Regions from separate parts of the Homo sapiens genome. Here region 1 is linked to region 2. The links come from fine-mapping of genetic effects on gene expression. Tissue or cell type: blood mononuclear cells. Region 2 holds a variant in brackets; the other region holds the start of a gene. All regions are shown on one strand. Distances are between the middles of the regions. Region 1 holds the start of GUF1 (GTP binding elongation factor GUF1). Region 2 overlaps GUF1 (GTP binding elongation factor GUF1).

The links. PIP is the estimated chance that this variant, and not a neighbour inherited with it, causes the effect.
Region 1: GUF1 starts here. The variant in region 2 is fine-mapped to the expression of GUF1 in blood mononuclear cells (TOPMed, PIP above 0.99). The same link has a PIP of 0.9 or more in esophagus mucosa, fibroblasts, lung, pancreas, subcutaneous fat and thyroid.

The regions. Positions count from the first base shown.
Region 1 is chr4:44,673,949-44,687,636 of GRCh38, reverse strand. GUF1 (GTP binding elongation factor GUF1) reads right to left here and starts at 9,217. Exons shown (of 17, transcript NM_021927.3): 1 at 8,850-9,217; 2 at 7,085-7,196; 3 at 6,795-6,943; 4 at 6,434-6,514; 5 at 5,226-5,303; 6 at 4,319-4,402; 7 at 1,614-1,678; 8 at 924-1,127. The coding sequence starts at 9,014. RefSeq lists a silencer at 8,879-9,038 and an enhancer at 9,110-9,998.
Region 2 is chr4:44,694,166-44,710,229 of GRCh38, reverse strand. GUF1 (GTP binding elongation factor GUF1) reads right to left here. Exons shown (of 17, transcript NM_021927.3): 14 at 15,717-15,818; 15 at 14,496-14,615; 16 at 12,786-12,822; 17 at 9,302-11,686. The coding sequence ends at 11,549. It overlaps GNPDA2 (glucosamine-6-phosphate deaminase 2), which reads left to right. Exons shown (of 7, transcript NM_138335.3): 6 at 2,304-2,478; 7 at 7,088-8,435. The coding sequence ends at 7,149. Among named protein-coding and RNA genes, the nearest start is that of GUF1, 24 kb to the right of the region's middle. The variant GGGCTTAGT/T (reference allele first, on the strand shown) is at 8,658.

The DNA of each region.
Region 1 (13,688 bases), 21 kb after region 2:
CAAAGGAAAAAAAGGTAAATTTTTATCCAAGAAAAATGTGAACTCTCAACAAACTGGACACTTGATATTCCTCCTGTAGCAAAAGAGCAAATCCTATGAGTTCAGTTTAAGCTTAGTTAAAAAAAAAAATCCCTACAAAACTAAAATGATTTACACTTAGAATGAGCTTTAAGAACCTTAAATGAAGATGTGATAATGTTTGGTATATATGGCAGAATATAAATAGATGTTAAAATATTTCAGTAAAATAAAAATAGACTTTCTGACTCAATATAGTGCTGTTTTTAGACATATAACACTAAACACTCAAATGTGATCTGACAGTCATCTGGTTCAATAATTTCTACAGACAAGGAACAGGACCTTACAAAGCTCAAATTATGTACCCAAGGTCATGCCTCATCAGTACCTGATACGGAGTAGGCACTCAATAAATAGTTCTTTTACAAGTCAATTCAGATGTTTTTCTAATGCACACTACCCTTGCTAATCCTACTCCCCAAGAATTTTAATCAAGGTTTTACCATGAATTCCACACTAAAGATTTATTAAGGTTTCTATTATACCACCTTTACATTGGAAAATCTAGTTATGAAGAAATGTCAAAAATGATACCTAATATGGATATGGGTGGAGGGAACTAACTCTTTCATTGTCTCATCAAATACATCGATATAGGATCCAATCTACCCTTGATCATAAATCTAGTTATAACTAGTCATTTAGAATAAAAAAAGTATCAACTGACGTTTCTATTGTCCTTCCCATGAGATTCCTTGACAGAGCATTTACTGTATAGTTGCATTAAATAGTTTTTTTTAAGTTACCAAATGAGGATCATTCTAAGCATACCAAGTTGAGAAAAATGCAGAAATAGAACCACATACAAATGCATTTTAATTTTACTAATGCAGATTACTTACAATTTATGAGTTGGCTGCTCATTAGGATTCAAGACTCCTACTTCATTAACTTCGTATGTCTTTTGAGTATGTGCAGATACAATTTTATCTCCTTTGGAAACCACTCCGTCAAATAATGCTACATTGGCTATCACACCTCTATACTGGTCAAAGGTGGAGTCAAATACCAAAGCTCTCAGAGGATTTTTGCGATGCACTTTAGGACTAGTAAATATAAGTAAAAAGTAAATATATATACACTAAATTAAAATCTTAATAAAATTCTTATTTTCAACTTAGATATTGTACTTGAGTTCTTGAGAAAGTTTGATACACAACAGCCTAAATAAAAAGACCTTTTTATAAAATATATTAGATTTAATAACCTCTAGTTTTAACAAATTATTTATGAATATATTTGTTCAGCTTAAAGCAAAGGAAAATAACTGCCAATGTACTGAGGTATATTTTATAATGATTGTCATGAAAAGACCTCTATCAATCATCTTTACTTTTTCTTTTACTTTACTGTACTTGCCTTCTATGTATTACTAAAAGCAAATAAATTTATTCTCGCTGCCTGCAAGAATATTTGCCACATCCATTAAGCTAAAATAACAGTTCAAGCTGACAGTCTTTGAACTATTAAACATGGACAGTTTTTGAACTATTAAATAGAGACAACTAGTACAAAAATCACCAAATACTCACGGGGGGATTCTTTCAATAATTGCCTGAAGAACACTCTCAACATTTGTTCCAAGTTTAGCAGAAATCTAAAAAGATACATGTGAAAAATATAAGCATTTAAAGTTAAGACTATACTTTTCTATCTTGATGACCTGTGACTTATGATCAGAAGGAAAAAAAAATTCCAATAGTTATCAATTTGAGAAATACACCAAAAGGAAAAGAACAAAGCAAACAGTATATTGACAAATACTTTTTCTATTATAGTTACGTAGTTCTACAGTTCTAGAATGGAATTACAAGAGAGTCCTAATTATGGTATTGAAAGAGGAATAGTTCGAAATCTGGGTAACAATCATGTCTTTGCATTGAATCCATGTATTTCACCAGTATCTATCTCTTTGAGCATAAATTTCATCATCTAAAAAATGAAGTGATTATTCATATTCTGCCTAAATCTCAAGGTTGTTGTGTGGATAAACAATGTATGTGGATGGCATAAAACCATAAGGCATCTTACTACTACTTTAGTGTTCTCACACCAGAAAAGCAAGCCAACACTCAAGCCACATGGTATGACTGACCTTTATCACTGGTAATAAATGGACTATCTCTGAAATCCTGACTTCAAACTTCTTACTCTTCACATTCACTCTAGACTAGGATTTCTCAGTTTCAGCCCTACTGACATTTTGGGCCAGATAATTCTTTGTTTTGGGAGGCTGTCCTGTGCATTACAGGATGTTCAGCAGCAACCAGGGCACCTCATTTACCCACAAGATGCTGGTAGCATCCCTCCCAAGATGTGAAAACCAAAAATATCTCCAAATATTTGCCCAGGGGCAAAACCACCCACCACTGACAACTACTGCTCTAGACTGTAGTACTTTCTTTACAATAGTCCTTAACTTGTAACTATTGAATATACTACTTGATGCTGTCCATCAGCTTCACCCTCCACTCTGTTTCTATCTTTTCCCAGATGGGACTCCAAGATCCATCATTTACATTCACTCTGGTTCAACCACTTTCTGTTCTCTTCTTATTAGAGGCAGCTGACAAAACCTCAACCTTGACTGCATCCAATTATGTGTTTTTTCTATGCCCATATACAGAACAGCTTAACATTACTGGAAAAAAGAAATCAAATAAATGGTCTGGTTCGTTTCTTGTATCTGACAACAAGCTATCTTGCCTATGGGCAGCTGTGCTTCTTATATACTTATCTCCAAATCAAGAAACATCATTTAATGCAATGCAGATTTTAAAATTAAGGTTCTTTATTAATTTTAAAGTATGAAATGGAGGTTTGTAGACAGTGCTCAGTTTAGCAATGAACTGTTATGTTTTATGTATATTGTTTCCTCCTGGATCATAATCTCCTTTTCATATGGATAGTTAATACTGAGCCATAGTAATTTCACATCTGGGCTACCATTAATAGCTGGATTCCCTGTATCTCTTCTTATACCTCTTTGATCCATTCTCTGTAAGGCTACCTGAATGACTGGTTAATTTGTTTCTCTTGCTTTAAAATCCTTCCATTGTCTTAGAATAATTTTCAAGCTCTTCAGCACAGCACGAGTCCCAGCATGACTTGATTCCTGCATACCCCTACAAAGCCTTCTCATCCAATCAACCTTTCTGATCAGTAAACATGCCAAATCTTTTCCTAATTTAAGTCCTTTACACATGCTCTTTTCTCTTCCTGGAATGTTTTTCTGAAAATTATTCATTCCTCCACGTTTCAGTTTATCAGAGACGCTTTTGCTAAGTTATTCCATGTCATAACGTCTCTCTAAGAAAAAAGACTTTTCACTGTTAATGATGGTATTTCACCTAGAATAATAACAATTTGTCGAATGAATTTCCTTGACAATCTCTATCCTAGTCAATAATTCCTATGCTTACTTCTTTGTTTACTTATTTATTGACTGTCTGCAGAAAGGAAGGGGTCTTGTCTGTCTTATTCACTGCCATACTCTTAGCTGGCATATACCAAATAAGAATCTGAATGAATTTTATTAAGATTAAAATCAGAATAGTTAATTGTATTTTAATATAACATAATCCAAAATATAAAACCATATATAACTTGCTCTTTTGAAAATTAAATTAGCTTGAAAGAAAAACATTACATTGCTGTGCTGACATACTTTACACTACCATGTAGTATAGCAGTTTGGCTGTGGCTGTTTAACAAGCAGATCATCATTTCAAAGGTAAATAAAAATTCAAATTTAAAATGGTAGCAACTTTGGTATAAATAAAATCTATTGTTTCCTAGCACTACAACTAGCTTTTTATAAAATAGGTTTTTGTCAGTTCCAAGAATGATACATACAAAAGCCCTGAAATTAGTTTGAACCTGCTCTTCAAAGACAGTATTTCCACTGGGCAAACTGACACACAAGAAATACTGCAGGGAGTTTCAGAAGGCCTGTGTTTTAGTCCTGGCACATTGGCTAACTAAACCTGTGATCTTAGGAAAGTGATAAAACCTTTGAGCCTCAGTTCCTTTAACTACAGCATCGCAATAATTTCTGTATGTCCTAACAATATAAAAAGGGCTTTTGATAAGGATCAAAGGAAATAATAGTAAAAGAAGTTTGTAAAACTATAAAAAACAGCATATAATGCCAGGTTATCAAATACCATGAAATTTCACTTAGCCCAATTACTTGAGACTTTTTTCAAAGTATAATCTTTTTAGGAACGTATTTTACCTTAATACATTCATCACTTGGAATATCAAACACTTTCTCAATTTGGTTTTCAACCCTTTCAGGATCAGCATTCTTCAGATCTATCTTTAAAAAAAAAAATCCATTATGTGAAGTATAATAAAGATAAGATGTATTATGTATTAACAGTATTCGGAGGTAATTAAAAGCTTACCCACTTTAACCTAACTGACCCCTCTACAATATTTTTTCAAAAGCAGTAAAATAATCTATATATTAGCAGTATAATTTAATAACCATGATTGAAAAAGAGAAGTTAAGTAGCAGAGCTTGCAAAAAAAACTTAAGCAGTTAGCTACCCAGGGCAGCAGAAGAGATCAGTAGTAATTTATCAATTAAGCAGCATGTGAACTGATTTTAAAGGTTAAGTTAAATACAACATTAAGTCTGACAACAAGCTGTCTTACCTATGGCCTTCTTTTAAACTTAACTCCATTATCAAGAAATATAATTAAAGCAATGCAGATTTTAAAATTAAGATTCTAAATTAATTTTAAAATATGAAATGGAAGTTTATAGACAGAGCTCAGTTTAGCACTAAATTGTCATGCTTCATGTGTTGTATTGTTTCTTCCTAGATTATAAACTTCTCTTCTTTTCCTATGTATGGTTTAATCTGACAAACATGTTTCATCTGCCCTGCTTCCCTTCCCTACAGAAATGGCCCTCAGCTACCACAAGTTAATTCAGGAGAACTACCTTCTCAATTCTGTGCAAGGGTGAGTTTCAGTTGCACTTCTGTTATATACAATTCAAAGAGATAAATCCCACCAATATATTTAATAAATAGCTGGTGATCCCTCATATAATGAATAGTACAACTGACATTTAAACATTAATTGTACTTTTAGAAAGTGAAATAGCAACACTGTTGTCTCATTGTAATTACCTTATTTATAACTGGAATTACCGATAGCTGTGCTTCGAAGGCAAGAAAGAAGTTTGCTACAGTTTGGGCTTGAATTCCCTGAAAATATCAAGATACAAGATACTGAGATGACCATTCTATTATATATCACAAAACTTGTAATTTAAGACCATTCTATACATCTTCATCAAGAGATTTTGCGTTATGCTAATAATAAAATTAAACAAAATGCCATGTAGCTACCCTTCATGCTTTTCTCTCCAACTTATGTCTTTGGGGTCAATATGAAAATCGCTGATGGTAAAGCAATAATCACATCAAGTAGAGTGAGCCAACAGACAGTCTACTAAGCTTGAGATAGGAAGCCTTTAAGGAAAGGTACACGGCAGCTCAACTATGATACCTATTTTTCCATGCATCTGAATCATCCTCTGTAATAATTCCTTTCAGTTCAGAAAGCATTTATTGGAGGGCCTTTTCTGTGCCAGAAACTACATCAGGCATTGGAGAAACAAAAGATGTAACATGGACTCTCAAGGACCTCAAAGCTTATTAGAGAACACAGTCATCAAGGTAGTTTATAAAGGCCAGTACTGCCTACATAAGGTAGAGATTGACTTTCCTTGATGGGATCAGGAAAGGCTTAACGGCTTAACACAACACGGTCACCACCACCACTAAAAAAAAGTTGGGTTTTGAATGAAGAGTTTGTGAGAAACATGTAACAAAAGTTTATATTCACAGCTCTTACATGGTCATCTGCTGAGTGTCTTTACGGCTTACACAACAAAAGAGCTTAGTAATGTTACTGATTTTTTAAAAACCTAATACTTCCAAATTATTGCCTTAAAATCACCTAAAATGATCTGAAAACTAATGATTTATTCTTAAGATCTGCTAAAAATGGATATAGAAACCTCAGATTAAGAACTGCTAAAGTTGGTGGGGTTTTTTTGGTAAGATGCATTGACAATATGATGTCACACTTCAAAAAAATACAACAATCTTTTGAACAATTCCAATTTAAAAACTAGTCAATTCCAGAGAATGCTTTATTGTAATAATATTTCAGATTAACAGGATGAAACCATATGATTTTCAGTAAGTAACAGATTAAATCTATTTTTCAAACACAAAAATTCTATTTCCAAAACACATTTTAAAGAAAAACTCTTGAAACAACCAAATAGTCATGTCATATCACATCATACAAAATGAAAAATACCTACCTCATTTGCATCAACCACAAGTAAAACACCCTGGCAAGCAGAAAGTGACCTGGATACTTCATAACTAAAATCAACATGGCCCTGAGAAACAAAAATATTGATACCTGTAAATGTGAGTTAATTTTTTAGGAAAGAGCATTATGGCAAATTTATTGACTTTACTTGATAAAAGCTGTTAAATATTCGTTTCTTTTTTGTAGCCTGCACTTTTGAAACAACTGACACTAACATAAGAACACTGAGAAAACAAAAAGCAAAGGCAGATGTTTAATACTCAGTTCAAAAATTAAACAAGGATCTGTTTGCACTACTGACACAATGTTGACTTTAACAATACATGCAAAATTAATATTAAACTTACCGGTGTATCAATGAGATTTAAAAGGTACTGCTTTCCTTCACAATTGTAAAAGAGAGATGCTGTCTGTGCTTTAACAGTGATTCCTCTTTCTCGTTCCACTTGCAATTTATCAAGAACCTGCTTATTATTCTTTGTTTTATCAATTGTCCCTATAAACAGAAACACTTATTGATATTTCTCTGGGCTTTAAAAAAAAAAGAGAATATTACTTATAAAATTAAAATTTAAGAGTAAAAGTAATTCCCAATAACTCGCAGCCATCAGTTAAGTATGTAACATAAATGAAATACCTGTAAGTTCTAGGAGCCTGTCAGCTAAAGTACTTTTGCCATGATCCACGTGTGCAACAATACTGAAATTTCTAATATTTTCAACAGGAAACCTAGACATGTCAAGTTTTTCCTAGAAAGGGGAAATACCACATTTAGGAGTATAAATTTGGCATACTATCAAACAAGTATACCAATTCAAAGAATATTCTTTTAATCGTTGAACAATATCATTTCTAGCATTTATATTGTTTATATTATTATTCTAAGAAAAAGACATGTATGGCTAAGTTCATATTACAAGGAACATCAGTTTAATAGCCAAAGGTAACTATACAGCTAAATCATAATCCCTTAACATTTCTACACAATTTTTAGGGCCAATCAGGAACTGAATTTATTATCGTGAATGGAGAACATGAGACACCTAGAACTTCTAAAGGCCTGAGAATACCTTGTCTAGTAAAACTTTTGAGGCAATGGAGCTACAGAAAAGCTGAAAGAAGATAAATTTTCTGCTCCTATCACACATTTAATCAGGAATCAGATTTATTTAAAAATCTGTGTCTCTAATGGAGCCTCAAAATTTTATTTTAAATACAATTTTGCTACTTTGCAGCTTCTCTGGTGAGAAAGAAAAAAAGATGACATCCAACAAAAGACTTATCACTTAAAACTTAAAAATATTTTAAAATGGAACTCCTGGTTTTTCGTGTACACATCTTCTTTAACGTTTTACTGAAACACATCACAAATTGCTAGAAATTGTTATCAAGCAAAATATACCAGTTTTTTGTACTCTATTTTTTTCCAATCAACTGCATATTTCACAATCAGCAAAACCATGAAATTACAATGAAATATAAAATTCACGTGAGCTTTGTTTTTTAATAGCCCCATAAAGACAGATAATAAAAGCACAATTATAGCTGAAAGTCTGCCGAAAAAAAACTAATTCTGATGTTTGCCCTGTAGATTTTCTTTCCCTTCAGTTCAAAAGGTATAGAGAATTGCACCATCTTTATACTTCGAATTGCAATATAAATCCATTTTTAAAAACACAGGCATATTAGGGCCAAAGTTGATTAATTTAAGGTTTTGTCTTTCTGCCTACTTATAGCTTGCCTTCAGTCACTTCACTTTTCTGACTAAAATGTATCCATTCACAATTATCAGAGTTGTTGAACCTCCCACCCTCTCCCACCAGAGTCAAAATTACACAGGTTTGCTCTGGCTGAGGTAGAATGAAATAAAACTACAAAGACAGACCGAGAACTTCCTGCATTCTAGGTATTAGTCTAAAAAAGTCCACTTCTCACATCACACAAATCTCACAAATTAGCCACTGGATGTTTGATCAGTTCTGCATTCAACAAATGAAGTAGGAGAGTGACAATGTAGTAACTTGCCCAGGCCACATAGCTACTTAATTTGCAGGAAAATGGACGTTATATTAATATTTACTAGCAACTTGCTTAGTAGGCTTTTTAGAATTAAATAGATGAATAAACGCAAAGCACTTCGACCAGTGGCTCGCGTAAACAAATCAACATTTGACATTGAAAATGAGAAAACCTACAAAGTTAGTGACTTGCCCAAGGTCACACTAGTGAGGAGTGGAGGGTCGGGAACCTGAGCAGTGCTCACACTCTCCGCTCTGCCTCCCTGTACCAAGTTGCAAGCAGGGTTCAGAGCTAGTCCCAGAAAGCCCTATACATGTCCAAGATCGCATGGGGCACTCCAACGTTTGAAAACTTGGCTAAATCAGATTCCAGGGGGCAGTCACCTTGAATTCTGCGGAGCTGTAGAGCCTGTCGGTAGCCCAGGACTCTGGAGCAGCCCCAAGGGTCGGCGCGGACCGGGGCCCCGGGGCCACCAGAAGCGCGGCCCCAGTGGCTCGTGGCGCGAGAGCGCGTGCGCACCCCCAGCCCCGACCCACGAGGGTCCACATGACCCGGGCGGCGGAGGCGTCAGGAGAGGGTACCCACACGCAACAGCAGCATAGCCCGTTTTTTTTCGAAGGTACCCCCCGTAGGATCCGGTGGACAGGACTCAAACAGATCCTGTGAAGCGAAGACAATGAACCCCGGGGAGCTCTGCCCAAGTACCAGATCCGGAAGCAACCCGAAGCGGCGGCGCAGCTTGCCGACGTCTGCACGCCGCACGCTGTCGTGACATCAGCGCGTCTTGGCGCCGGGTAGTGGAGTGGTCACGTGAGTGGAGGCTTTCGATTGACTCCCTAAAACGCAGGGTGTAGACAGAGTACATATTAGCTTATATTGTCTGCTGAGTGCTGTGCCAATTCCTTTGCATTGTCTCTTTCTTACTACTGCCCTGTGGTGTGTGTACTGTCAGTTCCCCCAAACTACCTCTGGAAATCCGGACCGAGTGACTTGCCCAGGAGCTCACAGGTGGGGAGCTGTGGAGCCTGGAGTGCCGCCCAGGCAGTCTGATTCCCGAACCAGGAGCCGAGGTCTTAGTCCAGGGACTTAAAGATGCTATTATTAGCACAACGTTGAGACTTAGCCTTCTACCTAATGGCAAAATAATAATGGCACTTTTAAAATCTGGAGGTCGAAATGTATTCCCCATGTTGTCAGTGACAGAGCTAATCTTGAAGTGCATCTGAAAGGAAACGGGCCATAACATTGATTGCAATACTGAATCCAGGAAGGTTTTGGCAAGAAGTAAAGGTGGGAAAAAGTTCCATGCTGGACCCCCAATGTTTCCATCGTCATCAAGTTACCACTTCATGGAATGAGCTCTGACGAAGTAAGAATGGGGGATAAAACAGGTGATAGGAGGATTGCATCCAGTGTTTGTCTCCCACTATTTCTCTTGCGCTTTTCTGGAATATCCAGAATTTGGTGCGAAGGAGGGAGATGACAGCTGTGTTCAGTTCATCATTGTGACTGAAGACAGAATCATTCGTATTGTTTCCAGAGCCTTTGAAAGTTTCTTCATTTGGAGGATTTCTTAGGATCAAGAATTCTGTACCAGACTCAGTTCTTTCTTGGATTTTTTTTTCCCCCCTGAGATGGTGTCTCGCTCTGTCGCCCAGGCTGGAGTACAGTAGCGCTATCTCGGCTCACTGCAACCTCCGCCTCCTGGGCTCAAGCGATTCTCCTGCCTCAGTCTCCTGAGTAGCTGGGATTACAGGCGCGCGCCAGCAATCATGGCTAATTTTTGTATTTTTAGTAGAGACGGGGTTTCACCATGTTGGTCACGCTGATCTCGAACTCCTGACCTCGTGATCTGCCCACCTCGGCCTCCCAAAGTGTTGCGATTACAGGCGTGAGCCACCGCGCCTGGCCCTTTCTTGGAACTTTTATGAATTAAAACAGTACTTGATAGACGACTAATTCTGTCACACTTGTAAGAGAATGAATTTAACAACTATCTTGAAGTAAACACAATAATTTATATTCAATGTTGCCCAGACTTCCATAATTTGCACAATTACCCTCATTAATTTTCACCATATCCTGTCAAAGATAAAGGCAGACACCAGTTAAAGTGGTGAAGACAGATTTTTATTATAGTGATATACTAATGCAATCGGGAATAAGATCCAGAATGAACTAAACTACAATTTGTCCAGAGGCGACTGTATTTTAAAAGGAGAATGCGGGAGTAGGGAAAGAGAACAACTGGGCTTGATCAAAGTCAGGGAAACGGAAATTTACAAAAAACAATGGCGGAAGAATGGTCCATTTGAAATCCATCTGGGTTGTAAACTGTTGCTTATGGAAATAAGGCTCCTACCCTTCCCGCAGACACTAGGAAATGAGTGCTACTTTCACATGTTGGCTGGAACAAATAAATTATTTTGTCAGTCTTGAGCTTTCTCAGACAGAAATTTAAGGGGGCTTCATCTTAGAGATGCAGCCTTGAGCTGTTATAAACTATATGAGTTTGTTCAAGTCTTTTAATGTGTGGGCAAACCGGTAGGGGAAGGATGTGGATGAAATCATTTGTGCTGAGGGTCTGTAGTTTTTATAGGCAAGTTTGAGGCTTTGCTGATAAGAGGGCTTAGAAGAGTCAGGCTAGAGTTTGGTCAAGAATCTTTGTCAATCCTCATACCGATATTATGTACTTTATATTTTTCTTTAACTTACCTTTATATGTAAATGAATTCTTTTTAAAAGAAAACGTAGATACCATTAATGGAGAAAGCATGATGAGCTGTCATAAGAGTAACAGTAAATATAACTGTAGTGAATAAAAAATGTGATTCAATTGTAGGTTTGGTCTGTCTGGATTACAAAAGGGAGATTAGCAGATATTAGAAAAGAATTTAAAAATATTAGCCTCAAACTGAGATTTTTCTCTTTGACCTAGCAAGAAGCATTTAAATAGGGTTGAAAGAAAAACTTTATCTGAATAACACAGTATCCTTGATACCATGTCTGTATCTATCTTGGTGCCTCCACAGGAATTTGTCCCACACTTTAGAAAACTGCAGTATCTTATAAGGCTGACATTATGTTTCCCAGCCTACAAATGGAAAAACATATTTGTTAGAAAAATACTGAGCTCCACTGTGTCAGGTTATATACTAGCTGTGGAAACTCAAACAAATTAAGCAAAATGTCTAAAATTACATGATAGATAAATTACATGATAGATAAATGCAAAAAAAAATTTGAATCCAAATTTTTGGAAACTAAAGCTCATCTCTTGCAATATCTTTGCACAAGTTTCTTTATTATTCAACTTGAGAAGAAGCAGGAGGTATAGTGACTGAACTTCAAAGAGGAGGTATCTTTCATGTGCTTCGAAGGATAGGCAGTTTTTTGTTTTTATCCAAGGAAATAAATGGAACTTAAGCAGAGGAATAATCAACAGCATAACACATTTTCTCAGTTCCCAGTACTATTCTACATACTTTGTATCAATTCATTCGATCTTCACAGAGCCCTCTATTGCTGGCACTCTTATTATCTCTGTTTCATAGATTTCCAAGAAAAATGTGGCCAACGTTTTTTAAATAACTGTCTAGAGTCACAGTTAGTGATGAACTAGGGCTGTGAGTCCACACAGTCCAGCTGTAGAGCCTGCACCCTTAACCACTCCAGTAAACTCGGCTCAGCTGAGCAAGGATACAAATGCGGAAAAACACACAATAAATTGGGTTAATAGTCAGTAGAGAACAGGGCCAACATTCAGGACAGTAGCATTTTATTTGAGGCGAGGACTTCTGAAGAGCTTAAATAATTTACAAACTCATAAATCAAGACTCAGTTTTTCTGTAAAAATAAATATATAATATGGAGATTGCACTCATATAGTACATTAATCCACAACTATTGTATGGTTTCTATATTTGTAAATATACCGAAAGGAATATGAGTTTGCTAGGGCTTTCATAACAAAATACCACAGACTGACTTGGTGGCTTAAACAATAGATATTTATTTTCTCACAATTCTGGAGGCTAAGAGTTTGAGATCAATGTATCAGCACAGCTGGTTTCTTCTGAGACCTCTCTGTTTGGCTTGCAGATCAGTACCTTCTGCGTTCTTACAGGGTCTTCTCTCTATACATGTCTGTGTCCTAATTTTCTTATCAAGACTCTAGTCATATTTGATTTGGGCCAATCCTAATAATTTTAAATTAATTATTTCATTAAAGACCCTATCTCTAAATACAGTCTCATTCTGAGATATTGGGGGTTTGAACATCAACATATAAACATGGAAGTGTTGACACAATTCAGCCCATAACAAAAGAGTAATAAAAACAATGTATAAATAACTATCACCTCTAAATTCTGTTTCAAAGTTATTGATATTGTGGAGCATTTCTAGCACTAAAAATACCATTAATAAATGATTAAAGTAGTATCACATTAGCCATTTAAAGCGCTTGCACAATTTTAGAGCATAATCACACAATATTAACAAAGGTTCTCTAGTATTGCTGCTAGGCTGCTAAAATGGTGCCACCATGTGTCTACAGTATAAAATACATCTTTCAATTCACTTTTGAGGCCCATTTTTAAATTATTCTAAGTTTTTTAGACTTTTATATTTTTTCAAATTTTGAGCATAAAAATTTGATCTTTAGAAATATTTTCATATCACAAAATAGAAAGTGTATAGGGTAGAGGAGGAATCATAGAAAGAAGAGTTTGTATCACTTTGTGAAGGGCTTTGAACAGGGACGTACTAGTTAGCATTTCACCATTAATCTATGCAGAAACCATCGTAAGGAAGGAAATAACAGAATTTTTTGCTCTAGGGGGCTTTCTCTAACGATGTGTAAAATGAAAAGAAATCAAATGAGGTGATGAGAATGAAAGGGAAAGAGAGTTTTTTATTTTAATAATCTAGGTAAGACAGGCCGGGCGCGGTGGCTCACGCCTGTAATCCCAGCACTTTGGAAGGCCGAGGCGGGTGGATCACGAGGTCAGGAGATCGAGACCATCGTGGCTAACACGGTGAAACCTCGTCTCTACTAAAAACACTAAAAATTAGCCAGGCATCGTGGCGGGCGCTGTAGTCCCAGCTACTCGGGAGGCTGAGGCAGGAGAATGACGTGAACTCAGGAGGCGGAGCTTGCAGTGAGCTGAGATTGCGCCACTGCACTCCAGCCTGGGCAACACAGCTAGACTCCGTCTCAA
Region 2 (16,064 bases):
TATTTAAACTTGAACATACTAATAGAACTGTCAATCAAAATATATGAGAAACCTAGAAATCATAGGTATATGAATAAAAGACCTTTCAAGGACTGAAACTTCATAGTCAATAAGTTGAAAAAAGGATTTTAGAGCAATCTTATTTCTAAAATGTGAAACTGAGTTATGTAATAGATTACATTTAACAAGATGTAAGTTTTAATACAGTTTTTATGCTGATTTTTAGAACAAACAATTACTCAAATATTGAGTTTTTTTCTTTGGGTCAGTTTTTGCCCAGACAGGAGTGCAGTGTGTGATTACAGCTTACTGCAGCCTCAACCTCCAGGGCTCAAGAGATCTTCCCACCCCAGCCTCCTAAGTAGCTGGGACTTCAGGTGCACACCACCATGCCTGGCTGATTTTTCAATTTTTCATTTTTTTTTTTTTGGAAGTGACAAGGTCTCACTGTGTTGCCCAGGCTAATTTCCTCATTTATTAAAAATTACATTTGACTTAAAAATTCCAACCAAGAAGGGATGGTGGAGGATTTAATATGAGCTTATAGATTTTTGTAAATCACTTATATCAGTTTATGGGATGATTAAATGTTGATTATTCTTTAAAATTAGCTTATTTCATAACCTTTTAAAATAGTGTTATTGCTACACTTAAGTAGCAAAAAGCTGTATCAATGCAACATCTGCCTGAGCACTGGTTGTCAAACATTAGTGTACATAAGAATCACCTGGTATCCACACCTAGCTTGCTTCTTTAAATTTAGGGATTCTGCAGTTTGAACAAACATAACAAATTATTCCATATAGTTTGTCCTTTCCCATGATATGAGAAATAATCTCCTTGAGAGTAGAACAGGTATGATATAACTAATCACATATCAGATCAAGTCTATTTAAAGACCAATTTGTTTTATCTATGCCTTAGCCATAGATAAACACCAATAATGAATTCTTCATCCTATACTAAGCTTCCCTTCCAGCAGCCTCCTTTCCCTCCACTCCCTTCATAATGGTAATGCCAGGTATGTACTTACCTTTTCTCACCAATAAAAGTTTAGTTGTCTTTTTTTTCCTCAGTATATATACTTCATGTTGAGATTTCTTGCCACCTGTCCCATTACCTTTTTAGAGTGTGCATCCATAATGAAAAGACTCTTAGCTCATATTGTCTAATTGTTAGAACTTTTACAAGAGGCAATGTAATGTAATTGTTAATCGCTAAGAATATGCACTGTAGAAAAAAACTACTTGTTTGTATCTTACCAAAACCTTGGGCCAGTTACAGAATATGCCTCAGTTTCCTTATCTTTAAAATATGAGTAAGAATAGTATTTCTCTCATGGTGGTGTTTTGAGGAGTTGAGGTAATTCAAGGAGAGTGCAGAGTATTTCCTCCCATTTTAGGTCTAGTTATAAAATATGTAATACAAAATTTGTTATATTTTAGAACTACAGCAATTTTAACATTGTTTTTTAAAACAATTGTAATGAGGAAAAAAAGTTTAAAGATTATATTACAAAAATATGTGTGTAGATGAGGTGTTAAATGGGATCAATTTCCAGCTTAAACATGATAAAGAAAAGATTCCGACACATACACATTCACATTTGCAACATGTCATTGCATTATTTCATTGGCATTTAGGGCCTGGGGACCAAGAGCTTGGATTTTCTGTAGCTTATAAGGGTAATATCAGTCATATGTGATTATAAGACAGTTCCTATGTGCTTATAAGACAGTTCCTATGTTTAAGTAGATCCCTAATCCTTTTTTAAATCCAGTTTTTATTCTGAGTCAACTTTGAATAGCACATGTTCAGTGAAATGCTCTTCAGGCTTTTCTTGATAACTCTTCAAATTACCTGTTGTTTTAGAGTCTTTGCTTTTCTGACATAGTATCTTTTGCTTATCTAGACTACAGCAACTTGGTGTATCATTCTAGATTGTATAAATTATTTATAGATTTGTAACTCTGCTTTTGCAACACAGTCCTTTTGTTTCTTTTTCTTCATTGTCCCAGGTTTCTTTTATACATCATCATTCACTATGTTAAAAGTTACAGGTATTATAGTGTTTGCATTAATAACCCATAACAAGATATTGTTTTGCTTTGTTAAACTAGAAGCAACATTTTGTGCTTGTTAATCTTAAAAAGTAGAAATGAATACCTTGAACTATTATGTGGAGCTATGTATTTTTCTTTCTCTCAGAAAAAAATATTGGTGCTTAAGTTCTCGTTTAAAAAAAATAGAGCTTCTTACTCATTTGGAACAAGTTTTAACAATTGATGTTCATAATTTTTCAGGTAATGATCCTTATAACAGGGGCACACAAGGCATTTGCCCTGTACAAAGCAATAGAAGAAGGAGTCAATCACATGTGGACTGTTTCCGCTTTCCAGCAGCATCCCCGGACTATTTTTGTATGCGATGAAGATGCTACTTTAGAATTAAGAGTTAAAACTGTGAAATACTTTAAAGGTGAGCACTGAATTTCAAAAGCCGACTGAGATAATCTGTTGTGAGTGACAATTAAAACTTACTGTGACTGTGGGGTTAAATCTCACACTGTGACCTATTGAAAAGTGGCAACACATAGCTAGTTCTTTCAAGTAATGGAAAGTTCTCACCTCAGATAATAGTATCTTCAAAGTAGTACCTTTTTTTTTTTTTCATGAAGAGAATCTCTTCAGTCTCTATTTTCAGTAAACAATTTTTCTTGAAATCCAAGGTTTAATAATTTACTTTCATATTGAATATACAAGACCAAATAACCCAAAAGAAAATGTATCTTTGTCCATTCTGGATTTCTTTTCATGTTTACTAGTCCCACCTCAATCCCTCTTCCTCACTCCCCTCTAACCTTAATTTAGAACCTAATCAGTGGATAAGAGATCTCCCACTATCTAATTTAATCTTTACAATTTTAAGCCAATTTATTCCCATATATTAAAGTTATAATGTCTAAATGTTAAAATAGTATGGAATAAACTCTGCAAGTAAGCAGGAGTTTGATTGCCCAGACTTCATGTTGATTTTCCTTTTTCCTGTAGTCTAGTTCAGTAATTCAGAAACCTTACTCTACCAGGCTGTGTATTACAAAACACATATGCTTGATATAATGGTTTTAAGAGATTTTCAAGGGACATTTTGCCTATACCCAATGTAGAACCTATTCTCTGATTTAAGAGTCAGCTCCACATATTACACATATGTAAGCAAACTGTACAAACAGGTAATTTTCATAAAGCACCTGTATTTACATAGCTGATATTAAAAGTTACATAGTTGATCATATAGATAGGTCAGTGATTCACTATGTAGTATGTATGCTACTTTTGCTACATGATTATACCTTTTAATCTTTTTTACTCTAGTAACTAGGTATTTATTTTAATGCCTATTGGAAAATACACTGAATAAATCAAAGCTATATTTTTTGGATATTATTGCTTAAGACAAGGTCCAAAAAAGCTACCATATTTGATTGGCTCTAATACACGTTGATCTTGCTGATGTTGGACTGTGTCTTAAAACTGGTGTCAGATCATAGCTTACTGGGTAGCATTTTTTTCTCAGTGGTACATAAAATGGTGTGTCTTACAATTTATAGCATCTCATACTCAGAAATAAAGTATATAATCTTAAATTTTTAATTCAATGCAAAGAAAACCAACTCATATTTCATGTATATGTGTGAATATGGCAAATATCTTGAAGGTGTTATACAAATAACTGACATTTGGCAAGCACTGAAAATAGTCTATTTTTAAACAAAATGCTGATCATGCTTTGTATATAGTTTTGTATTTGTACTTATGTTTCATGAGCATTTTCCTGTTTTACTAAATATTTGGAAGCATTTTAATGGATAGTTAAGTACATAAATCATAATTTATTTAAACATTTCCTTATTAACACTTAGATTATTTCTAGTCATTTATATTTTTACCATTTAAATTACTAATTTACCAAGCCACAAATATATCAAACTGAAAAACTGAAAAACTGAAAAATTTCTGATTTGTGAATAAAAGAGCATTTGATGGAGTTTTAACTCTATTTTCCCATGTAACCCTTCAGATTTCATCCCAAATAATAGATTCCTTGACTACAAGGAATCCTCACTATCCACAAATTTTAATTCCAGTTTTAAGGAGATTCATTTAACATGGCCATTTTCTAGTCCTCATTAAGTCCCAGATAAATCCCTGTACTAATCTAATTTTGTCACAATTAGGTTTTTATCAGATTTTTATATCTTGGTGAATATTTAATAAGATATTTAATAACAGCCAGTATCTCTATGACCAGGCACTATTCTAAATGCATTTTACTTATTGATTTACTTATCACAAAAATGTTATGAAATGGGTATTCATAGTCCCATTTTTAAATTAATAGGCTTAACAGACAGAGACGTTAAGCTACTTACCCAAAGTCATACAGCACATATTTGGGCAGAGCTGGGTAATAGAAATCAAAATCAGGCTGATCTCTGGAGTATGCAGGCTTTTGTCTATTCTATTATACTGCCTCCCAGAATAAACTCTAGGTATGATACCATCTACATCAAAACCATATTTCCATCTGCTTTTTTCCCATATGATAATCACTGCTTCCAAAAAAGGTATATCGACATATGTTAGATAATTTAAAATAGAAGGGTGGTAGATGTTTATATGTATTTAGTTCTTTTAGTTCATCTAATTGTAAGCTCTTCTGAAAAATTTTGAAACAGACCATTCGTGAGAGGATAGCTGCACTGCATCAAGAGGACACAGTATTTTCCACTTTGGAGCTGTCTGTATTTCTGAAGAGGTTTCAGGGTATCAGCCTGTTAGGATACCTCCTTCAATATGAAGACAGAATTTAGACATTCTGGGCTACATATGGGCCTCATTTTACAGCATTTTAGTAAAGGGTAGAGAAATTGAATATTCTTAAATAAACACATTTCAAATGTAGTTTGTATACTTTTCATACCTCCATTGAGTTACTAGTATATCAAAATACTGGAGGATGTAAATTCCTATAATTGTCATCCATAACTCTTCAAATTCCATTCACATCACTACCCTTTCTTCTGTCATCACTAAAAAGTGCTGACCAGAATCTTAAAGGGTTTTATTTAGTGCCTAGATAAGATCTAGGTTAACTAGATCCAAAACAATAAAAATTGTCAGTAAATGCAAGTTTATTTCAATATATACCTATATAACGGTATATACCTTTTGAAAGATACAAGTTAATCACAAGACAACAAGTTTAGTACGTGGGGATTTGTTTTATTCATTCTCGCTTTTCATTTTTGCTTTTTAAATAGAACAGCTTTGATTTTTAGTATATGACATCATCATCATGAATTTTTTTCTCTTACTTTGTATTTAGGCTCCACCTCAGTAGTTTGACAAAGGTAGAATGAGTTCATTTTGAGTCAAAACCATAAAAGTTACTTTGTATAGACATTGGTTAGAATCTGTGACATTTAACCTTTCTTCTGGTAACGTTTCAGGAAGTCTGGTGCATTTTTATCAGAAGAATTATTTCTGTTTGACTTAAGTAGCAATTATTTATTTATATAAAATTCGTATGTAGAAAGTTGTCAGTTTTTACCTAAAGTCACAGTAAATATTTGACTTAATATCTAAAAAGCAATTAATAGAATTTTCAAAATAATTATTTCTAGTTTGGAAGCAGTCCTATTTGATGTATAAAAGATATATCCAATGTAAAGAAAAAAATTTTATAAAGGAGTTGAATTTTTAATATTTACTGATATTTTAATTTGCATGTATTTTAAAGCTCTGTGTATTCTTTCCGTAATCAAAGTTGTTAGCAAATGACAGATGAATACTATTTAAGTAGAAAAACGATCCTCTACAAAGTGATACTCTGGAAAATGTTGCATCTTCTAAATCATACAGCTGATATTACCCTTATCTTTGTTGTCCCCTCTCCTACTGGACATGAAGTTTCAGGTGACCTTCAAGTAGGCTGTTGAGCAGTTGCAGGACTAGTGAATGGAATGCTTCCCCCTTCCCTCCTTTAGAGTCCCATTCTTATGGTTAGAATTTCTCCTACTACACAAACACTTCCCAGTACTCTTTGCTTGTCCCTTAAAAGTGGGTCTTTCTCAAAGCTGGGATTTTAGAGTCCTTTTTGCAGCCTTTCTGACAAGGAACATCTGTTTACTAACAAGCAACCTATCTCTCCAATCCAGTAATCCCATTTCCTGCAAAACCGCATTAAGTGCCTTTCCCCACCCTCCCATGTTCTTAATACCTGGAAAACTTAACTCATTTCTTTACCCTCCAAAATATAAAATCTCTGGTTCATTAACTGGGTCAGTCTTTTTAGAACTTTTTTCTCCCCAAAGAAATATAGTACTGAGGCATTAAAACAGGAGTAACTGGAAGATCAGCTATTTCCCAAGCAGCTTCCATAGCTAAGAGCAGTCTGCAAGTATATGTACCAATTACAAAATGAAAGTTATAATCTACCGGATTTAAAATCGTAATTTCTATTCTGAATTAAATGATTTAATACAGGTTGTTTTCTGTCTTGTTTTAGTAACCCTCCCTCAGTGTAGAATTTGTAATCAACCTTTGTCATAAATACACATGCCAAACTATTGGAAAGTAATTTACCAGACGAATGGATAGGGTAATGTATTAAGAGTGAGACAGCAGTTCTGAGCCCCTGGCTGGAGTCTAGTAGAGGAACTGCCAGAGGATCAATATCAACATAGACTTTTAGATATAATTAAAACCTATTATCTAAGTCAGTATTCAAATTTGTCATGCTTAATCTCTTTGAAGACAAGAAATGCTCTTCTGGTTACTCCCAAAGTACCTGTACACATTCTAGATCTGCACTGTTACATAATTATAAATTGGTATTTGCTAGGTAGATAAAACTTAAGACATTCTGAAACATTTCTATTTGTACTTTTTCAATAAACTTGACTATATCAAGATGGGAACTAAACAGGCTTACTGTGTCTTATAAAAAATACTTTGTTGTCTAAAGTAAATGAGATAGTTCAAAATTAATAAAAACAACTAGAACTGTGCTTTTTTTCTTTAAGGTCTAATGCATGTGCACAATAAACTTGTGGATCCACTATTCAGTATGAAAGATGGAAACTGAAGGAGACTGGAGCAAAATTCAGCTTGAATGAACAGAGCACTTTTTACTAAGTAGTAGATGAATTTTCAGCTATGCAATATGACAAAACATGGGGAATTTTGAAGATTGTCATTTTTTCATTCGAGTCTCTATGTTAAACATTCCATATTTTGAATATTTATATCTTGTACTTGGGTTTAAGAGAAGTAGCTGGCTCTCAAGATTGACTGGCTATTTATTATAAAGTACTGAAGTCACATAGCCACCTATAAAACAGCATAGAAATGTCTGCCTGTTTAAAAAGTCATTTTAAAGGTAGAGTGTCCACATCAGGCACCATTTGTGATATGACTCCAGTGGCGTATATTTCATTTTTTAATGACAAGACACTCCAAACCTTTCAGATAACAAACTATCATTGCAGACCTTCACTTTTGGAATGCAATCTTTATATTTTCTGTGCATCACACACATGCTTTTCTGCACGTGGTTGCCTTAGTCATCTTCCTACAGCACCATCTAGACATCAAAAATTGTGCTATATATCATTGGTAAAGGAAATTTGAAGAGATGACAGTGCCTAAAAGTACAGTTTACATCCTTTTGGAAAGTATGTGTAAGTGCATGTTTTTTGTGCACCTTCTTCTATAGCACTTTTTTACAAATATCTTATTTTTATTTAACGACTTGGGTTCATGTCCCTAATATAAGTATCTTGACAATTATGAGCTTTATACCTAGCAAGCCACTTCAGGAAATTCTTTTGGAGAATATTTTCTGATTATTGTTAAACTTAATATACAATTAGCTTTATTCCTTATAAAATGTCTAAAAGAATAATACGAAGTATATATAAAAGGAATTACTGTAAACTACATTGCCATAGCAATTTACATAAAAGTATATTGTTTTTTATCTTTAACTCAAATAAAGCGTGTAATAAATAAGTTATCTAAATTTCCAGAAGTGAACCTGAAGAATACATGCATTCGACTCCCAACAATTATAGTACATGTGAACCTGCATTCATTTTGGGTTTGTTACCATCATGCATTAGGAGAGTTAGGTTAAAAGATGTCTTTGCCTCTGTGGGGAGCAAAAAAATGCTCCTTTTGCTTATTTTGCATTTCATAAGCCCACCTGGTAGAAGAAGCCTTACTTATCTGCTTGTCTATGTGATTAAAATGTAGTTTCTTAAAATATTAAAATAGCAAATAAATTAATGAAATAAAATTGGTAATAGGGTTTTATGGTTAAAAGTGGGGGATGGGGTAAATTATGCTGCTTTAATTCCAGATGATGTTTTAATAGCCTTATAAATGTTTTTTAAATAACTAGTGAGTAACACTCCACTTACACTTCCAGTAATAAGAATCATTTACTACAAACTATGCTGACTACCTTAGAAAGTCATACAGCATCACAGTGAAAAAGCTAAAGGTACCTGTTGTGCTACATGATTCACCAGTAATTTCTCTGCTTTAAAGGTCTAAAAATTCTCCTTTCCATTTTCCTTCCCTTGATGTTAG[GGGCTTAGT/T]TGAGGTTCATGTACTCAAGCTCCTCCACAAGCTGAGGAGCGAAAACTCTGGCCATTTTCATTCCTGCTTTCATTCCCTAAATTGAGGAGCTAAGCTGCTGTTAGGCAAAGAACCTAGCTTTTTCAAGAAACCAACCACTGAATCCCAGCTCTGTCAGGGAAATAAAAAAGTCTCAGCTACTTCCCCAAAATTTTTACATAGATTGAATAAGGGAAGCATACATAGCTCAGCACAGTGGTTGTCACATATTAAAGTCAATAAACGGTGCTATTTTAATATTGATAACAGTGTTTAAACATATTTCAGTGTTTGCTAAAATCTTAGTAATATTAAGTCCTCTGAGGAATGCACTTATAAAGCACACAACTCCAAATCACTAAAGTCATCTGACTGGGAAAGCGGGAAGGGGAAAGAAATTAAGCTTACAGAAAATGCTTTTTTGTACTACAACTAAAACTATAACTAAAACTACTTTTTTGTACTACTATAACTAAAGAGTCATAGGTTAAAAAAAGGTAAAATTAGTCTGAATAAAAAAGACTAAGACTGGTAAATTATTAAATAGCAAGCACATAGTACATATTACGTTCCAAGAACCAATTTGTAACTTATCCTTTGGCAGTGATAGAACAGAACACTTTTACAATTTTTTAATTTCAAATACTGTCATTTTCAAAATACTACTGTCATGGTCTTTCAGATTTCATCTGTTTTTATCAGAACCTGGAAGAGGGAGGGAAGATACATAAGATGATAATGTATGTATCTAGGACTATATCACAGGCTACTTCTACACATGATTTTAAGTAAATCTCCACTTAATTTATAATTAAAATGATTTCACAATAACTGTAAGCTCAAAATATCTGAGACAGCTCTCAAGTCAGTTTAGAAAGTTTATTTTCCCAGGGTTAAGGTGTGCCCATGACACAGCCTCAGGAGGTCCTCACCACATGTGCCCAAGGTGGTTGGGGCACAGCTTGGTTTTACACATTTTAGAGAGACATGAGACATCAATCAGTATGTGTAAGGTGTACATTGGTCTTGAAAGGCAGGACAACTTGAAGAGGGGCGGGGGCTTCAAGCATAGGCAGGTAAGAGAGAAAGGGTTGCATTTTTTTGAGTTTCTGATTAGCCTTTCACTGAATATACAATTTACATGTGAGAGGAGAGTAGAGGAATAGTCAGTTATACCTTAATCTGGCTTAGTGAAACATGAAACAGAGAAAGCAATCATTTATGCATTTGTTTCATGTGAAGACTTTGAGTTCTTTGTCCATAAGGAATTCCCTTGTGAGCAAATTTTATCTTTGTGGCTGTCTTATTTAGGAATAAAATGGGAGGCAGGTTTGCCTCAATCAGTTCCCAGCTTGACTTCCCTTTGGCTTAGTGGTTTTGAGATTTTTCTTTCATATAACCTTAGTATAAAATTCATCCTTGATAGTGTTTATCCCTAAAAGACATTTTCTTCATTCAATTCATTCAAGGTAGAAGATAAAAATCAATGGCTAAATGATGTTGTCTTGCTCTAATACAGTCTGCAGTCTGGTTTGTTCGTTGGCTGAATAAACATGGGAGCTGAGAGCTCTGGAGAAATACAGCCATTTACTGGCTGTGAAATCTCAAGTTAACTACTCTAAAATCGCTTCGATTATGAAATTTAGACAATAATTATTAAAATGTCATTATGAGTTCCTGGTAATACCAAACACCTGTCATTTTACACAAATGCGTTTTGAATGTCTGAAAGACAGCTCCTGCCCTTAATTTAGATGTAAACCATTTAGTTTCAAACTAACCACCTGATAAAATCTATAAACATTTTATCATTAACTAGAGCAGATGTCTGTTATTTGATGTCTATGTTATTTGAGTTTACTGTTTAATAAGTGAATTCATATCAATTAATCCTGCTAACAAATTTGACACTTAAGGTGATTCTGAAAATCCTTTAAACTTAAAGTAGATGGAATCTTAAGTATGGGGCCTTTTAGTGTCCGTAAAGAAAAACTGCATGCAACAAAATATAGCAGGTCCTCACTTGTTGAGATTCATGGAAATTGTGACTTTAAATGAAATGACATGGCTGGGCATGGTGGCTCACACCTGTAATCAGCACTTTGGGAGGCCACGGTGGGTGGATCACGAGGTCAGGAGTTCAAGACCAGCCTGGCCAACATGGTGAAACCCCGACTCTACTAAAGATACAAAAAATTAGCCGAGCATGGTGGTGCACGCCTGTAATGGAGGCTGAGGCAGGAGAATCTCTTGAACCCAGGAGGCAGAGGTTGCAGTGAGTCGAGATTGTGCCATTGCACTCCAGCCTGGGCGACAGGGCAAGACTCTGTCTCAAAAAATAAATAAAAATAAAATGAAATGACGCATAAACCAATTTTTTTTCCTCATCGATGTTACAAACCACTTAAGGAAATGACATCATTCAAGAACATTGTGCTACGTGTCATTTTGCTTAAAGTCAGTTTCTAAGAACCTTTCGATGGCATTTAAGGACTTAACTGTAGTTACAATTGAGTGCTTACTATGTGTCTTGCACCTCTGAATATTTAACGTATTACCTCATTTAATCTTCACAACAACAACTTATGTAGGTAGTAGTATAATCTCGATTTTACTGAAGAGGAAACAAAGGTTAATCTGGCCACGGTCACCTTACTAGTGAGTGGTTGGAACAGATATTTGAGAACAGGCAACATGGCTTCAAAATCTAAGCTCTTGCCTACCCACTAACTACTCCCTTTCAACGAAAGACTAGTAGGTTATTTGAACCTGAATACCCTGAAAGTAACAAGCAAATTTTATAATTTTCTTTCTGTTGTCAGCATATTACAAATTGCAATGAAAATTCTTTGTTTTCCCACCAATTATTTAGAAGATTGTGTTTTCAGAACTTTTATAAAAGCATCTTTTGGAACTTCAACGTTGCCAATTTTCCTCAGCTTTTTTTTCCCTTCTGCTTGTCTCTTCAAAAGCTTCATTTTTCGGGTAATATCACCACCATACTGAAAAATATTTTAAAACATTGGAAGTCTAAGTCACTCTAAAGAGAAACAATCATATGATTACAGCGGCATCAGTACAACCTTAACAACCATACCAAATTATTATCCATAAGGCAGACATCTCTCTAATCTTCCTAGCAGATCTAATTTTACTGTCTTCTCAAAGAATGATACAGGATTTAATCTGGATGGAGGTGAAGATTCCCAAGGAAACCTAGTATAATAATATGCATGTCAAGGAAGAATTATCAATCTCCTTACTGATTCTAGGCTTGGAATTTTGACTAGAAAGCCACAGTCTAATATAGGTAACTCTTAATCACATAGGAATAAATGTGCCTTTGGAGAAAGAATTGATCATTCAACTCTCACGATATTTAAGAATAATTTTTCTTTTTTTGAGATAGAGTTTCCCTCTCACCCAGGCTGGAGTACAATGGCAGGATCTCTGCTCACTGTAACCTCCGCCTCCTGAGCTCAAGCAATTCTCATGCTGCACCCTCCCGAGTAACTGAGATCACAGGCATGCACCACCACGCCTGGCTAATTTTTGTATTTTCAGTAAAGCTGCGGTTTCACCATGTTGGCCAGGCTGGTCTCGGAACTCCTAGCCTCAAGTGATCTGCCCATCTTGGCCTCCCAAGGTGCTGGGATTACAGTTGTGAGCCACCGAGCTGGTGCAAGAATAATTTTTTAACAGCTGAATAACAGCAAACTGGCAAAACAATGTCAGGAGAGGTAGACTTCAACTGTAAGATAAAGCCATTGTTTTCAAAATCTTTCATTATATGTTAGATCAAGAAAACATGTTACCCAGATCATAGAAATAACTGTTGTAAAAATCTTCCTTAGTATTACATATAAGAACAATTTTAATAAATATTTTTGTAAATTTTTATAAATAAGATGAAAAAATACTTAAAAGATATGGGCAAAATGAACAGGTTGCCATGGTCAAGCTGAAATTTACCTATTCAAAAAGGGAACTTGGAAACAAAGAATGTATAAAAACCAACAATGGAAATCAATAAGTTTATGCCCCCTTTGATTTAAAGCCCATAAAAGTTATAAAGTAGAATAAATACAACTAGATACATACACATTTTGCCAAAACGTTTTTCCTATAGGCTTTCACACTGTAAAAGAGAAAAATTCGTTTAAGTACATAATTCCATTATACTGTTTAAAAGCACTTCCTTACCAAAAACAATCTCCCCTTTACTAGAAAATTTTAATGATAGTATCATTACCTATGTAAAATTGCCATAAGCATATTAATTAGATACTTCAAATGCTCTTGTATTTATTTTCATGTACTTGGTATAAAAGAACAAATAAATTCAACATGTTTATCAACACACATTAAGAAAAAATGGTCAAGGCTTGTGGTAGGCTTGATTAGGCCAAATTCAAGCATGATGTGACCTTGATTACAAGAAATACATTAGGTTATTTTTTACTCAATCTAAAAATTACCAATCTAAAAATTAACACTACTACTTCAGAAAAACAAAATATGTTTATTATCTTATTACTGCCTCTACTGAATGTGGATGGAGTGGCTAGGAAGCTTGATATATCCACCCCAGCAGTTATAAACTAATCTATTTCTACAATGTTTGAGAAATTTCTAGATCACTCTAATTTTGAAAATAGCTCCATCTTTATGTATTCCTTAAGACAGAAAAACCAATTTTTTAAGGTATTATCTCAACACACTTATTTTAGAATGAGCAATTGCTAACTGTCTTAAATTGCACTTTCCAGGATGTTCCCTAGTTATCATTTCTACTCTGCCTGATCTCAGTATTTACAAAACACAGAATAACTAACCAAAGCAAAACAGTGTTAGGAAATGAAATGTATTTCAAACAGTGGGCCTAAAATTAACCTCAAGTCTATATTAACATGATGGTTGTATTTCCTCATTAGGTTTGGGTTAAGGTCGAATTTAATAGCAATTTCCAGCTTTTCATAACTGAGGAGATACTTCCTATTTCCTAGAAGTCTTAGGATCATTAAGGAAAGGAAATGGGAAGTGCTACAAGACACATCCTGCACCTGCTGTCACAAGCAGAGCAGCTTATTCAGTGTTCTTCATTGTTATTTTTGGGTTTTTGTTAAAAAACTGGGTCTTACTATGTTTCCCAGACTAGTCTCACAGCAATACTCCTGCCCCAGCCTCCCAAGTAGTTGGGATCACAGAATGTGAGCCACCACACCCAGCCAGTGTTCTGATTTATGTATTACATTTCATGAAAGACTAGTGTCCGACACAAATTAGCCTGTCTTCCATATCTACTATAATTCATGTGAGGTCCCTAATCTAGAATGCAAATCCTAACATGGTATTGGCATTCCTTGATTTATAACCTCCCTAGCTCTGCGGAAGTGGGGAAGCAATATTAAATGCTTTGGGTTAAAAAAAAATTGTAATTTTGTCATTTGGAAGACAAAACCTTTTAGTTTCAGTTTCTATTAATCTATAATCTACCTAAAGGGATAAAACCATAAAAGAAATTCCTTACCCAGGAAATTCAGTATAGACATTGATATGAGTGGAAATTAAAACAGTTCCTCAAACTCGTATACGTTATACTAACTGCAGATCACATCACCCAGTGCTGTTATATAAGTAATTCAAAGTAACAGTCATTACTTAAATCAGAAAACTGGAGAGCACCATCATACTGTTTCTACAAGTAAGAAAGCTTAGGCCAATGTTAAATTAAAATGTTCAATATTCTTTCACTTTTTAGGTATATCATTTCTGAAACTGGCTCAAGACCAAAAATGAATTTCAACTCACGTTTCTCTTGCAATGATTTTACTTCCAATAGCAGCTTGAATTGCTATCTCAAACAGTTGCCTAGGAAGAGAATCCTTCAGCCGTTCACATATGGCTTTGCCAATTGAATGAGCTTTGTCTCTGAGACAGAAAAATACAACTGTTTATATATCCTAAATAAGAATATTTCAAGTATTTTTCTAGGCCAGTTGCATAATCAGTGTAAAGGTGATCTCTTAAGGAGGTTCAAATGGAACTTACTTATAAATCTCTCTTACTCTCTGAATCATGAACAACTTCTCTGATTTAAAAAAGTAATGTATGATTACAGAATATTTAGAAATACAACATTAGACAATAGAAACTGTTCTTGATTCTCTTTCCTTACCCGCTGAAAACGGTTAAACATTTTGGAATGATTATTTTAAACAGTTATCTTTCTAATCACTTTTTTGCATTTTTTTGTATGATCAGTGTTTACGATATATTCTACCCTCTTTATATTTAACAGACATTTTTATGTCACTAAATATTACTCCACAAGTTTTAATGGCTGAAAATAACAATATGGGTGCTTTGTAATTCATTTTAACCAATCTGCTGTTTCTTGAACACGTGGGGGTTTTCCTTTTTATAATTTTTTTACAAATATAAAAGGGCGCGGTGGCTTACGCCTGTAAATCCAGCACTTTGGGAGGCCGAGGCGGGCAGATCAGAGGTCAAGAGATCGAGACCATCCTGGCCAATATGGTGAAACCCCATCTCTACTAAAAATACAAAAATTAGCCGGGCATGGTAGCATGCGCTTGTAGTCCCAGCTACTCAGGAGGCTGAGGCAGGAGAATTGCTTGAACCCGGGAGGCGGAGGTTGCAGTGAGCAGAAATTGCGCCACTGCACTCCAGCCTGGCAACAGAATGAGACTCCCATCTAAAAAAAAAACAAAACAAAACAAAAAAACTTGTTCCCAATTCTAAATCCATCATTATAAAATGTTTAAAACTTTTTTTAATATGGTGAAGGGAAACATTTCTATGACACTGTTCTTTTTGACTATTATAGCTCTGTTCTATTTTTAGCAGTCTAGAGAGAAGTGTGGAAAAAAAAGAGAAAGCAAAGTTAGTAGGGTGAACTCTATTTTAATTACCTTAGAAGTTTTTTAAATGCAGCTGCTCAAACAAAAATAAATGAAAAACATATCAAAAGTATTTTCACATTCCATGATTAGTTTCTATTGAACTTACTTGTGTACAACAGTTACTAGCTCCTCTACAGTATTTCCATTCAGTAGAATATCCATTTTTACAAGTTCTGCAGTCTGGTAGCCTGCATCTTCGTAATCAAAACTAAAAGGAAAAAAGTCCAAGTGATAAATATTACACTTCCTGAGAGATTACCTTTATTACTCTTTACTCTTTACTAAATGTCTACTTTCTACCGCATTACACTCCCCAAAGAGATATGTTTCCATCAAAATATTACATATACAGTTTCTTGTGAATGGATCTAAATGTTATCTTTTTATGTTTATTAAATCAAGGGCAAAAGCAAGGGGAATATGTTTATAGGGGAAAGGAAAATAAGCTGGTGAA